4 linked regions of the Homo sapiens genome follow. The protein of the gene in region 1 interacts with the protein of each later gene in a pairwise test. Each region holds a gene or a part of one and is shown in the gene's direction. Other genes may lie near its edges.

Region 1 (3,500 bases):
AGCTCTGCCTCCCAGGTTCACACCATTCTCCTGCCTCAGCCTGCCGAGTAGCTGGGACTACAGGCACCTGCCACCACACTCGGCAAATTTTTTGTATTTTTAGTAGAAACGGGGTTTCACCATGTTAGCCAGGATGGTCTTATCTCCTGACCTCGTGATCCGCCTGCCTCGGCCTCCCAAAGTGCTGGGATTACAGGCGTGAGCCACCACGCCTGGCCAGTTCCCCCATTTTCTTCAGCTACATGATTTTCTTTGTAGAAGAAAGAGCCAGTGGTTGAGCAAGGAAGGATGCCGTGGGCAGCTCAGGGGGAGAGATGACCTGTTAGTTCCTCCCTTTCTCTGCATTGCCCAAGAGCAACAGCCAAATAGCGGTTCGGCCCTTATTTTGTACTGGGCACCGTGTGAAACAGCCTGCCTGCGGATTTCACTCAGTCTTCACCATACCTCGCAGGGTAGAGACTGAGACTCAGAGATGTGGCAGCTTGCCCAGGGCCATGCAGCCTGTTCGGTATCTCTGATTCTAAAACCTGAGCTTTTAAGTTTTAGCTCACTACTTCTCCAAATGTCATGAGACCTTTGACCTTGAACCTGGGGAGGTGGAAAGCCAGCCTGATGGAGGCTGACTCACTGGCTAAGACCTGTGAGTTGTGCAGGGCTGGCTGTTCAAGTCTTTGCGCTTCAGGTTCTGGAGATGACAAAACAGAAGGGCTCATTTGAAACAGACTTGCCAAGAAATTAATCCTACAGTTAGTGAACAGCATGGGGTACAGTATGTCAGTGTGTGCAAGTGGAATACTACTGAGGAAAGACAAGTATTTTGTAACATGTTGGATAGTTTCTTGCCTTGCCAAAAAACATGAGCACATGCAGTGGAAACTTTAGCCTAATGCTGAGGCAGATGAGCCCCGTGGCCTAGAATCCACGCTGTGGAGGTTACACGGTGCTTAGGAGTGCCAACCTGGGAGTCGGGCAGCCCTGGCCCACAGACTGACTGTGACCTCAGGCAGATGGCTGAACATTGATTCAGCACATGTATATGGAGCATCTGGTAAGTGCCAGGCATCATACCTAGGACGGGGGACACAGCAGTGAACAAACACAGAAATTCTTGCCCTTATCAATCCTACATCCTAGTGATAATAAAGAAAGAAAATGTATCAGATGATGGGGGATAGATATGTTGATGTGTGTGATGTGTTTGTGTGTATACATGCAGTACATATGCACACATCGCACATGTACACATGTGGACATATAGATATCTTTCCCCCCGGGGCCAGTAGGGGAAAAAAATCAAGAAAGGCTTTGGGGTTCAGGGTAAGGATGGGCTCTGCTTTAATAGAGTGGACAGGGAAGGCTCCCTGTGAGGGTGGCATTTGGGCTGACCCGGGGGAGTGAGCCATGTGGATGTCTGAGGGAAAAGCATTCCCCAGTGCGGACAGCACGTCCAGGGGCCCGAGGGGGGCCTGTGCTTGGGGTCCCTGTGACTGGTTGAGGATAAACAGAGGAGGGAAACGGGAGGTGATAGAAGAGGCGAGATTTGGGGTGGAGGTGCAGACCGTGGGAAGCCTGGCGGGCCATGGTGAACCTTGAGTCTTATTCCAAGTGGAAGAGAGAGGCCTGGAGGGTCCTGGGCAGGTGGTGCTGTGATCTGACGGGGCCTTCACAGGACCTTGCTGGCAACTGGATGGAGGACAGACCCACAGCCACAGGGGCAGGGAGCCCAGCGTGGAAGCGGTGGGGGTGGAGGGACACGGTTGGCTTCTGGGTGTGTTTTGAAGGTAGAACCTGTAAGACTTCCTGCAGAATTGTATATGGGAATGAGAGAAGAATCAAGGACCTGGCTTGAGCGATGGGAAGGGTGGCACTGCCATTGAAGGGAAGGGACAGCAGGAAGGACGGGCGAGCTCAGTGGGCAATGGCATCAGGGCATCAGAGCAGAGCCACGAAGCTCCAGGGAGGCCATCAGGCCAGGAGGGCAAACTTGGGAGTCCTCAGGAGATGACTGTGAAGTCTCAGGGCTGCCTGAGGTCACCTGTTCTGCCGTCACTCCTGGGTCTGCGTGGCTGGGTCCTTGTTGCTCGGGCTCTGCCCTGAGGTCCTGCCCAGCCTGCTCCACCTCCCGCTCTCCATGTCCGTTCTGCTGTGTGGCATTCGCCACTCCAAGCACCATCTGAGATTGTTTCCTGCCCTAGAGTGGTAAAGCCGTGAGGTCCGTCTGCCCTCAGCTGTGTCCCCAGGCCCAGGGCGTGCCTGGCACAGAGCAGGCCTCTGAGAACCAGCCTCCCACGTGAGTTCATGATAGCAAGACAGCCCCTCGTTCCCATTCAGTGGTTGGTTCTGTTCTTTCCCTGGCCATAGGCTCCACTCTGTCAGTCAGCCACACATTTATTGAGTACCAGTTGTGTGCAAAGCACTGTTGGGCATGAAAAGCATTAACCCAGTGAATGAGGAGGAGCTTGGGTTGGGGACGGAGCCCCAGAATTACATGGCAGACCAGAAGGGAATCAGCTCAGTAGAAGACACGCATGGGCTCGTGGGCGACGCAGTGTGTGCTGTGTCATCTGGGGCTGGGAGGAAGTGTCCTGGGTCAGGAGTTCCAGGAGCCCAGGAGGAGTGGACGGGTCAGTGCAGAGCCAGCCCGCATTCAGGGGAGAAAACACGGCCAAGGCCAGGCCTTCACGGGGAGCCCAGCGTGGGCTGCACATCTGCACTCTCCAGGCTAGTTTTGGTGCCCACATGCTCTGCAGGGTCTGGGCACTGTGGCAGCGGCAGCAGGCTTCCCTGTTGCTAGTCCAGCTGCTGAAACTCCAGGGAGAGTCAAAAAGTTCCCAAATACAGAGGCGTGGCTGGTAGTCCTTCCCGGGAATTCTTCTTGCTTCCCGCTTTCTGTGGAACTCTGCCTTCCCCACTCTGCCTCTCTGCTTGTTCCTGGGCCCCAGGACCTCTTTCCCATCTTCGATCTCTTAAGTCATACCTTGGGAGGCCTCCCCCAGCCCGCCGTGTAAAGAGGGCTGTCACAGCTTCTGCTGTCACAGAAGCATTACAATGTGCAGGTGCCTGTTAACATCTGCCTTCCCCACTGATCTGGAGCTCCACAAGGGAGAGGGCACACCCAGTAGGTATGTGTGGGATGGATAGGAGGGTGGATGACACCCAGTAGATGTGTATGGGATGGATAGGAGGGTGGATGACACCCAGTAGGTGTGTATGGGATGGATGGGAGGGTGGGTGACCCCTAGTAGATGTGGGGGGGGTGGGTGGGTGACCCCCAGTAGGTGTGTGTGGCATGGATAGGTGACCCCCAGTAGACGTTTGTGGGACGGATGGGAGGGTAGGTAAGTGACCCCCAGGAGGCGTCTATAGGGCAGGTGGGTGGATGTGGATGAACAGCACCTTGTTTCTTCTTCCCAGGTGGCTTCTGGCACAGCAGCTTAATTGACCGGAACCTCATTGATTATTTTGTTCCCTTCCTCCCCCTGGAATACAAACACCTAAAA
Region 2 (3,500 bases), on another chromosome or scaffold:
AGACAAGGCTTCGAGGAAGAGAAAGTGACCAACTCCATCACACGCTGCTGGTAGTCAGGAAGGATGGCAACAGAGAACAGGCCATTGGGATGAGCAACCAGGCACTCACTGTAGACCTTGGTAAGAGATATCTGGGGAGAGGGGAGTGGAAGCCAAGCCTGCCTGAAATGAGGGGCTCAAAAGAGAATGGGATAGCAGCATCATTCACAATAGACAAAAGGTGGAAGCAACTCAGTGTCCATGACAGATGAATGGTAGAACAAAATGTGGCAAATGCATAGAATTGAATAATATTCTGCCTTAAAAAGGAGGGAAATTCCATGCCAGCTGTGCTGGCTCACGCCTGTAATCCCAGCACTTTGGGAGGCCCAGGGAGGGGGACTGCCTGAGCTCAGGGGCTCGAGACCAGCCTGGGCAACATGGCAAAACCCTGTCTCTACCAAAAATACAAAAAAATTAATTGGGCATAGTGGTGCATGCCTGTAGTCCCAGCTAACCCGGAAGCTGAGGTCAGAGGATTGCTTGAGCCTGGGGGGTAGAGGTTGCAGTGAGCTGAGATTGTGCCACTGCAGCAATCAGTGACAGAGTGAGGCCCCGTCTCAAAAAACAAAACAGAAAACCAAAAACCAAGAAGGAAATTCTTTCTTTTTTTTTTCTTTCTTTTTTTTTCTTTTTTTGGAGACAGGGTTTCCCTCTGTTATCCAGGCTGGGATGCAGCGGCAAGATCACGGCTCACTGCAGCCTCAACTTCCCTGACTCAAGTGATCCTCCCATCTCAGCCCCCAAGTAGCTGAGATTACAGGTGCATGCCACCACGCCCAGCAAATTGCTGTATTTTTTGTAGACAGGGTATCACCATGTTGCCAAGGCTGGTTTTGAACCCCTGGGCTCAACATCCGCCTCCTCGGTGCTGGGATTACAGGCATGAGCCACCATACCCAGCCCAAAGGAAGGAAATTCTGACACATGTTACAACATGGGTGAACCTTGAGCACATTATGCTGAGTGAAATAAGCCAGTCACAAAAGGACAAATATGGCATGATTCCACTTATATGAGGTATCTAGAACAGTCAAATTCAGAGACAGAAAGTAGAATGCTGGTCTCCAGGGACTAGGGGCAGGGGGGAATGGGAGTTGCTGTTTAATGGATACAGTGTTTCAGTGTCACAAGATGAAAAGCTCTGCAGATTGGTTGCACAATAATATCAGTATACGCAACACTACTGACCTGAAAACTTAAAAATAGTCAACACAGTAAATTTTACGTTATGTGTGTTTTATCACAATTTTTTGAGACACAATAGAAGGCAAAAAATTAGTAAGTCCAGAAAATTATTTCAAAAAGTTTTGCTCTAAACTGAAGAGAAATGGGTGTATAACTGTAGGGAGAAGTAGGGTGGAGAGAGGGTTCTGCTGTTTTTAAGTTGGGAGAAATAACTGCATGTTTATTTGCTGATGGGACCAATCCAGTAGGCCATGGTCTTAAATGTTGAAATTACTTGCAAAAGGCCGGGCGCAGTGGCTCACGCCTCACGCCTGTAATCCCAGCACTTCGGGAGGCCGAGGCGGGCAGATAACTTGAGGTCAGGAGTTCGACACCAGCCTGGCCAACATGGTGAAACCCTATCTCTACGAAAAATACAAAATTAGCCGGGTGTGATGGTGTGCACCTGTAGTCCCAGCTACTAAGGAGGATGAGGCAGGAGAATCACTTGAGCCCAGGAGGCAGAGGTTGCAGTAAGCTGAGATTATGTCACTGCACTCCAGCCTGGGCAACAGAGCAGGACTCCATCACAAAACAAAAAAAAAAGAAATTACTTGCAAAAGAAAAACTGTATTTTAGGATGATAAATATTCTGGAACTAGTGGTGATATCTGCACTACCGTATGCATGTGCTAAAAAACAGACTGGGTACTTGAAAAGGGTCAATTTTGTGGTATGTTAATTATACCTCAATAAAAATAAAAGCTATAATAAATGTTTAATGTCTTCCAAATACCATGTTCTCATACAGGCTGAGTTCCCACCCAGGCAGCCCCAGATACCTACAGTTTCTGTGGCCAGTGACCCACCACAGCTAGGTGGTAGCCTGCGGAACAGGAGAGGCAAGGTCATCCTCATTACGGCTGAGTCACAAATGCTGCATTAGCACACACAGCCCCCTACAGCTAGATCTACGGAGCATGCACCAATTTGTTGCAGATAAATGGCACCTTTTACTTAGGCCCATGAACTCTCAGGTCTTCAGTCTTAAAATGAAATCTAAGAGCTGGGCACAGTAATTCACATCTGTAATCCCAGCTACTCAGGAGGCTGAGGCAGGAGGATCACTTGAGGCCAGGAGGGCAACACAGTGAGACTCTGTCTCCAAAACAAAAAAAAAAAACCCTAAAATGTAAGAAAAAATCCTTTCAATCAGAACAAGAAACTCTGCACCCCCACTGCCAATCTGCCCACCCATCTGGTCCACCTGTAATTGCAAGAGAACAAGGGAGGGACTTATTTTGCAGTCAATCAAAGGGGAGGGAATTCTTTCCGAAATGTTCTCCTATCTGTACCAACAGCACACTTCCACTTCCAACCATTACACTTTTCCTTTCTTTCTTTTTTTTTTTTTCTGAAACAGAGTCTGACTCTGTCACCCAGGTACAGTGGCATGATCTTGGCTCACCGCAACCTCCGCCTCCCAGGTTCAAGCGATTCACCTGCCTCAGCCTCCCAAGTAGCTGGGATTGCAGGCACCCGCCACCATGCCTGGCTTAATTTTTGTATTTTTAGTAGAGACGGGGTTTCACCATGTTGGCTAGGCTGGTCTTGAACTCCTGACCTCAAGTGATCCATCCGCCTCGGCCTCCCAAAGTGCTGGGACTATTGGCGTGAGCCACCGCGCCCAGGCTTTTGCCTTTTTCCTTTCTTCTGAACAACCTCAAACAGTATTTTACCCACTGTGATGATTAATTTTATGTGTCAACTTGGCTAGACCATGGTAACCAGCTATTTGGTCAAACATTCTAGACATTTCTGTGAAGGTATTTTTTAGATGAGATTAACATTTAAATCAGTGGACTTAGAGTAAAGCAGATTATTCTCCATGATGTGGTGGGCTTTATCCAATCAGCTATAAGCCTTAATAGAAAAAGACCGACCTCCCAGAGCAGGAAGAATTCTACCCAGAGAGCCTTTGGGCTCACTGCAACTCTTCCCTGGGTCTCCGGCCTGCCAGTCTACCTTGCTGATTTTTGACTCACCTGGCCTCCACAATCACATGAGCCAATTCCTAAAAATCAACCTCTCAATAGATAGATGAGCGATTGATTGACACACATCCTGTTGGTTCTGTTTCTCTCCAAACCCTAATACACACCCAAAATAAGTGATTTTCCAATAGAAATTGTCTGTAAGGACCTGTACTTGCATGAAATTTCAAGTCACCAGATAAATGAATAAAAATATATTTTTTAAAAACCACAAAATATGGCAACCCAGAAAGAATAACA
Region 3 (3,500 bases), on another chromosome or scaffold:
AACTGATTTAAAAAATACTGAGGGCTGCCAACCCCTCAGATTGCAGAACCAGGTGCACCCACCCTCCCCACCTTCCACCCCACACCAGCTGCGGCTCAGACCCTCCTGGAGGGGTGCTGTCAGCCTGCCTGCTTGGGCAGTGGAGTGGGTGGAGGGGATGTAAGTGGTGTGGCCTGGCAGGGAAGGGCAGTGACTGTTACTGTCTCAGAGGGCTGGTCTTCAAGGGCAGTGGGAGGGCCATGAGGGACATGCCCCACCCAGCCCCACTCAGCAGCCCCGTGGCCTCTTCATTAATCAGGAATCAGCCCCGAGCTGGGCTCATTATCAGCTCAGCTTCTCAGACACTGCCGGAAGATGCTGATTAGCGTTTGAAGAAATGGCCCCACGTCCTGTCCCCCTCTGATCCTCCCTCTGTCTCCCCTGCCCGCACTCCTTCCTGGACCCCCACCCCTGCCCTTCTGCTTCTTGGGAGGAATCTGCTCCCTCTTGTGGCTGGCGGCAGGGCTGCCTCTGCTAGGTCCAGGCAGGGGGCAGGAAGGATCAGGAATGGAGAGGCAGGGGCACCCAGGAAGCACTACAGGGAGCATTGGAATGCCAAGACCCAAGCTACTCAGTCCCCGAGTCGTCAGTGGGTCCCATGGGCAGGCAGGAGGGAGTGAAGGGGGTGGAGCCTGAGGTGGTCCAGGAGAGATGGACAGCCACCCTGCAGGAGGGGACAGAGGCCGGCCTCAGGCTGCCTCTGAGTTATAAGTTATAAGTATTCCTGAGTTATAAGTATTCCTTGCCCTTCCAGGCTGGCCCTGCAGCCCACCTCCTTTGAGCAGCTGGGAAGAGGAGGTGGGAACGGCCAGCACTGGGGGCAGGAGGCCCGAGGGGAGAAGATCTGCCACGTTTGTTTGTTTTTTAATTTTTTTGCAAATCATGGTGGAAACTTAGGGTCTTCAGAAGGATGAGTGAGGATGGGAAGGCAGGAGGAGGACAGAGGGGCAGAGATCCTGAGAGTGGAGATGGGAAGGTTCAGTGGTGTGTTTTCTAGGAAGAGGTGGGCAGGGGTCTGCACTTCTTCCCCTGGCTCCTAGGCTGGGGCTGGCAGCGCTGGAAATCCAACCCACCCCTCAAATGCTCACCATGCCCTTGGGACACCCGTGGGTGTTGGGTTGGAGGGGGAGCAGTTCCAGAGAGATAGGCACGGGCTGCAGCAGCCGAGGCGGCAGCAAGAGTTCAGAGAGGAGCCACGGGATGATTAAGGGGAAATGGAGGATTGATTTAGGAGGAAAGATTAAAGGAGCTAAATCCGTGGCGCTTGGCTCAGCGGTGACTAAGCGTGGACAGGATAATAGCTTACAAATGTGTGGAAGGTGTAAATACCAAACGGGGGGAGGGGAGGCGGCTCGGCGGGCCCGGAGGGTGGGGTGGGGGCTGGGCAGGTCCCCGGGGAGGGCTGGGAACCCCTGGGCGACTGCCCGGTGGGGTCGGCCCCTCCCCAGTGGGGGCTCACGGGGGAAGGAAACGGGACGTTGGGGAGCCCCAGGTTCCCAGTAGGGGTTCCGTTTCTGGTCGCAGCCTCCCGGGCCTCGTGCTGATCATGTCTCACTCCCGCCTGGCTGGGGATCTGAGGTCGCGGGTTCAAATCCCACCCGAGCACCCAAGTCCCTCAGTGCCCCCGGCCCCGGGCCTTTTGGCCGCTTCAGGCCCGCCAGCCAGGCCCAGCTCCGCATCCATCTCCTCGGGACCCCCGCCCCCGTCGCCCCCTCCCCGGCCGCCGCGGGGGCGGGCGGCGGTGTTTCCCTCCGCGGTGGAAGCCTCTGGCGCTGCTGTGTGCGGAGGTCACTTTGCCGAGGAGCCGGGAGCCGGGGGAATGCAAATGAGGCAGACCCAGGGAGGAGAGCGGAGGAGCCCGCAGGAGATGGGAGGGAGGGCGCTCGGGAGCCGTGATGGATGCCTGGCCCGCGGGAGGGAGCGGAGGGCGGCGAGGCGCGCGAGCCGGTGGGTGCGGCCCTCTGGGTGCGGGTGGGCCAGGCCTGGGCGGCCAGGCTGTGTGTGCGGGAGAGGGCGGGGGGCCAGGGATCCTGGCAGGCGCACACCCACCCACCCACCGTCCCCGCCGCCTCTTTCTGTCTTGTCTCCTGAACTCCCGCCTGGCTGTGGGAGTGTGCTCCACTGTATAAGCAAAACTCTTGACGAGGAACTTTGCATCGAGGGGCGGGAATGTCAGGGAAGGACTTACTTACCAATTCACCAATTAAAAACTGACTTTCTAGGGTGTAAGGCCTAAGCGGTCGCTGCCTGGGGAATGGTTTTGACCGTTTACCTGGGTCCCGGAGGCCTTCATCCTCCCGTTCTCCTCTCCCGTGGAAGCGCGGCGCCCGCCGGGGACCACAGCCTTCTTCCACGGCCCCCAGCCCTCCCTGGCTCCTAGGGCTCCCCTGTCCCTTCCACCACAGCTCACACATTTACATTTGAACAAACACCTCAGCCATTGCCTCCTAGATCCACTGTAGGGAGGAAGTGGCCCTGAAAAGCTCATGGGTGGCGGTGGAGGTGGGGGGTCCCTGTATGCACGTGTAGAACTAAGCCTGCTGAGGGCGCTGTGTCTTCCTCTTTCTTGAGTGTGGCATTGTCTGATGCCCCTCCTGGGTGAGCCAGGTGGCTTGTTTAGAGAAGTTTTTCCTGACCCTGCAAGCCAAATTGAGCTCCTGTTCCACCGTGGTGACCTTGGCTAGGTCACCCCATCACTACAAGGATCACAACTAGTAACAATTTATCCATTTGTGTGACTGGTGGATTTGTGAACATGCCTGGTGCAGTTCAAAGTGTTTATGTTGTAAGTGCCCCATAAGCACTTTTTTTTTTTTTTGAGACAGGGTCACGCTCTGTTGCCCAGGCTGGAGTGCAGTGGTGCCATCACGGTGGCTCCCTGCAGCCTCAACCTCCCAGACTCAAGAGATCCTCCCACCTCAGCCTCCTGAGTAGCTGGGACTACATGTGTGAGCCACCATGCCTGGCTAATTTATTATTATTTGTAGAGACGAGGTCTCGCTATGTTGCCTAGATTGGTCTCAAATTCTTGGGCTCAATCGATCCTCCTACCTTGGCCTCCTAAAGTGCCGGGATTACAAGTGTGAGCCACCGTGCCTAGCCCATAAGTACTTTGAATGAATGAATGTCTCTGCAGCCAGACAGCAAGCTCCTTGAGGGCAGAGGCTGTCTGTTTTGTTCTCTGTTGCATGTCCAGCACCAAGCACACAGTGCCTGACACTGTTGAGCACAGGCTCAATGAATAGTGTTGGACAAAGTAAGTGTTGTTTGAACATTCACCAGTTCTTGAGCGCCTACTATTTGTAGGTACTGTGTGCCAAGTGTATGTCACACAGTGGCTATGGGTGGACTCCAGGGCCAGACTGCCTGGTCCCCTGTCAGCTTCCTTATCCTCTCTGTACCTCCGTTACCCTGTCTGTAAAATGAAAACGATAGGACTACTGCCATATAGGAGTTTTGTG
Region 4 (3,500 bases), on another chromosome or scaffold:
CTGAAAGACGGATACTTAGCATGTTTGTGGGAAGCAATGCGGGGAGTTACCCTGGCAACAAAACTAATAGTTTTTTTTTTTTCCTGGCTCTTAAATTAGCATATACCTTAAAATACAGCCATCTCAACAAATTGCAAATGATTAACAACAAATTAGCAACTAATCTTATCTGAGTTTATCTGGTATGGCAGGTATCGGGCTATGCATTTCATGTTCATGGTCCCCCTTCATCTTTACAAGAGTCTTATGAAGTTTGTCAGCTGGGCGTGATTGCTCACGCCTGTAATCCCAGTACTTTGGGAGGCCAAGGAGGGTGGATTGCCAGAATTCAGGAGTTCAAAACCAGCCTGGGTAACATGGTGAAACCCCGTCTCTACTAAAAATACAAAAAAAAAAAATAATTAGACGAGCGTGGTGGTGCACACCTGTAATCCCAGCTACTGGGGAGGCTGAGGCATAAGAATTGCTTGAACCCAGGAGGCGGAGGTTGCAGTGAGCCGAGATCGCACCACTTCACTCCAGCCTAGGTGACAGAGCAAGATTCTGTCTCCAAAGGAAAAAAAAAAGATGTTTGTTCAATTACTGTGCTCATTTTACAGATGAGGAAATGAGAGGTTAAGTAATTTATTGAATTAAGGTCGGTAATTAGAGGACAGGCACAGTGGCTTACACCTGTAATGCCAGCACTTTTTGAGGCCAAGGCTGGAGTATCACTTGAGGCCAGGAGTACAAGACCAACCTGGGCAACACCACAGCAAGATCCTGTCACTACAGAAAAAGATTAACAAGTTAGCCAGCCATAGTGGTACACATCTGTAGTCCCAGCTCCTCAGGAGGCTGGGGTGGGAAGATTCCTTAAGCCCAGCTTTATCTCTTTGAGGTGGCAGTGAGCTAGGATTACACTATTGCACTCCAGCTTGGGCAACAGAGCAAGACCCTGTCTCTTAAAAAAATTTTTTAAAAGGCTGGTGATTGGAGACAACAAAGGAGACAAATCCTCATATTTAATGCCATAAATTATTAATATGATAGATTTCAAACCATTAATGGTTGCATTGACTTTCATCATGAATTTGAATTTGGTAAACATTTTCTTAATATGTCCGTTGTTGCCAGATGGCAGAATCATCTGTGTCCCTCTCCTTAAAGGAGGATACTTGCACATTTCCTTTTAATATTAAAACAAATTTAAACAAAAGGAAAAGGAATCCAGATTATTATTTCATTTATAGTTTATTTTCTTTTACCTCCTTTACACTTGGGATCGGATGATGGAAGTCAACTTTAAATACACCCTCCAGGCAGTAGAGATTCTCCTAAACTGTGCAGCGTGGAGCATAGTCCCAGGCCCATTGTAACTGTTGAGTAAATATCTTTTTAATTGTGTATAATTGAACTCTCTTAAAGGAAGTCACTTTAAAATTAAATATAGGGGGAAAGCAGGTTTCCAAATAAGATTTCTAAAGTGCATAATTGAATACTGCCACAGTGGCTCTGATGTTTGCAAATTACATGGCTGATGAGGTTTTGCAATCTTTCTGGGATGTCTTGAAGTGGTCCGCGGCTTCCTGAGTTTTTAATAAAGGCTAGATGACAGTTGTTTGTAGATCTTTGGAATGTGTAATTGATGTTAGAGCTCTTTATTATCTCCACGACCTCATTCCTGTTATTTAATAATCTCTCTGAGCTTCAGTTTCCTCCTTGATAAAACAGAGGTGGTCATTCCTCTCTCACTGTGTTTCATTAAATATTAAAAGAGATTTTGTGGGTTAAGTGCAAAGCACCCGGCTATGGTAAATGTTTAAAAAATGTTAGCTGTTACTTTTAACAAAAAGATTCCCACAAATAGTACTAATTGGTATCCTTTTGTAACTTCGACTAGGATCAAATATGGAAAGAGAAGTAAACTACAAGAGGCTCTTTGGCAGGACAGAATGGAGAGAGAGCCATTTCTCTTGATTTATTTGTGGATGAAATGACTGTTATCCCGATCAGAGAAGTCGCCTACACACCCAGCTCAACCAATGCTTAAAGTCTTTTGGATTCCTCTTTTGGATATGCTTTCAGAGCCTGAAGCATATTGTTTTAAAGATCCTCAAATATTCATCCTTTGAGAGTAGATTTGATTTTTGCAGAGAAGTCATTTGGAATAAAATCTAGGCATTACATTAAGTTTTCAAGCTAAATAGTACAGTTTTTATTTTTTAAAACAAGGCACTTGCTTTTATGAAATGGGGTGTGTATCTTTGAGTCAATTCTGATGGTAGCTTTCAGAATTCTGAAGACTTGAGTGGCAGCAAATTAAGTGTCCAGCTTTCCAAATAGACATTCATTTGATATGTTAAGTTCTGGCCCTTTTTAAAATTCTCTTGAAAAATAATATATAAATATAAAAAAATCTAAAAGTAATATAAAGATAATATATAAAAAATAGTAGTTGCTAGTTTGCTAGTCTGATGCTCTGAAGAGGTCTGTCTTTAATAAAATACTTCAACAAACACAACAGCCAATTGCAGTGTGGTATTCTTGTTTGGATCCTGGAACAGGAAAAGGACATTAGTGGAAAAACTAGTGAAATCCAAATAAAGTCTGGAGTTTAGTTCATAGTAATGCACCAACGTTGGTGTTTTAGTTTTGACAGATGTATCACGGTAATGTACAATGTTAACCTTACAGGAAATGGGTCAGGAGTATGTCAGGGCACTGTATTATCTTTTTGTTTTGTTTTCTTTTCTTTTCTTTTTTTTCTTGAGACAGAGTCTCACTCTGTTGCCCAGGCTGGAGTGCAGTGGCACGATCTCAGCTCACTGCAACCTCCCACTCCTAGTTCAAGCAATTCTCCTGCCTCGGTCTTCCGAGTAGCTGAGATTACAGGCATGCACCACCATGCCTGGCTGATTTTTGTATACACTGTATTATCTTTACACCTTTCCTGCAAATTCAAAATTATTCTAAAATGCAAAGTTGATTTAAGAAAAAAAACTAAATTACCAGAAAAAAATAAAGCAAGAAAAAGCCAAACTGTTATGATATGTTAATGTAGGTTCATCAAAGGTACTGCTGTGGTAGGGGATATTGATAATTGGGGAGACTGTGCATGTGTGGGGACAAGGAGGTATCTGGGAAATCTCTGTACCTTCCTCTCAGTTATGCTGTGAACCTAAAACTGCTTTAAAAGATAAAGTCCTTAATTTAAAAACAAAACAAAACAAACAAAAAAAACCCACGGTGTTATTTCCCTGCCTGTGGAGATTATTAACTTATCATTAAATGTGATGTGTATTATCTGTGAGCATAACTAATGGAGTCCTCTTTCTGCCTCCCCCCTTTCTGTTTTGCAGCATTGACAAGATATCTAAAGTCACCTCTCCTGTGTTGGTCATTCATGGTACAGAGGATGAGGTCATCGATTTCTCCCATGGCCTAGCGATGTACGAGCGCTGTCCCCGAGCCGTGGAGCCCCTTTGGGTTGAAGGGGCTGGGCATAATGACATAGAGCT

The links.
Region 2: the proteins of TOR1A (region 1) and SPATA12 interact in binary tests that used the Homo sapiens proteins (3 or more experiments, as listed by UniProt).
Region 3: the proteins of TOR1A (region 1) and ASIC4 interact in binary tests that used the Homo sapiens proteins (3 or more experiments, as listed by UniProt).
Region 4: the proteins of TOR1A (region 1) and ABHD17C interact in binary tests that used the Homo sapiens proteins (3 or more experiments, as listed by UniProt).

Annotation. Positions count from the first base shown.
Region 1 is NC_000009.12:129,814,137-129,817,636, reverse strand, and holds part of TOR1A (torsin-1A precursor), read left to right. Parts: intron 1-3,414; coding exon 3,415-3,500. UniProt on the Homo sapiens protein: Protein with chaperone functions important for the control of protein folding, processing, stability and localization as well as for the reduction of misfolded protein aggregates.
Region 2 is NC_000003.12:57,063,664-57,067,163, forward strand, and holds part of SPATA12 (spermatogenesis-associated protein 12), read left to right. Parts: intron 1-3,500.
Region 3 is NC_000002.12:219,520,982-219,524,481, forward strand, and holds part of ASIC4 (acid-sensing ion channel 4), read left to right. Parts: intron 1-3,500. UniProt on the Homo sapiens protein: Does not exhibit measurable stand-alone pH-gated sodium channel activity but may form pH-gated heterotrimeric sodium channels. Its activity could also depend on alternative gating mechanisms.
Region 4 is NC_000015.10:80,750,810-80,754,309, forward strand, and holds part of ABHD17C (alpha/beta hydrolase domain-containing protein 17C), read left to right. Parts: intron 1-3,341; coding exon 3,342-3,500. UniProt on the Homo sapiens protein: Hydrolyzes fatty acids from S-acylated cysteine residues in proteins. Has depalmitoylating activity towards NRAS and DLG4/PSD95.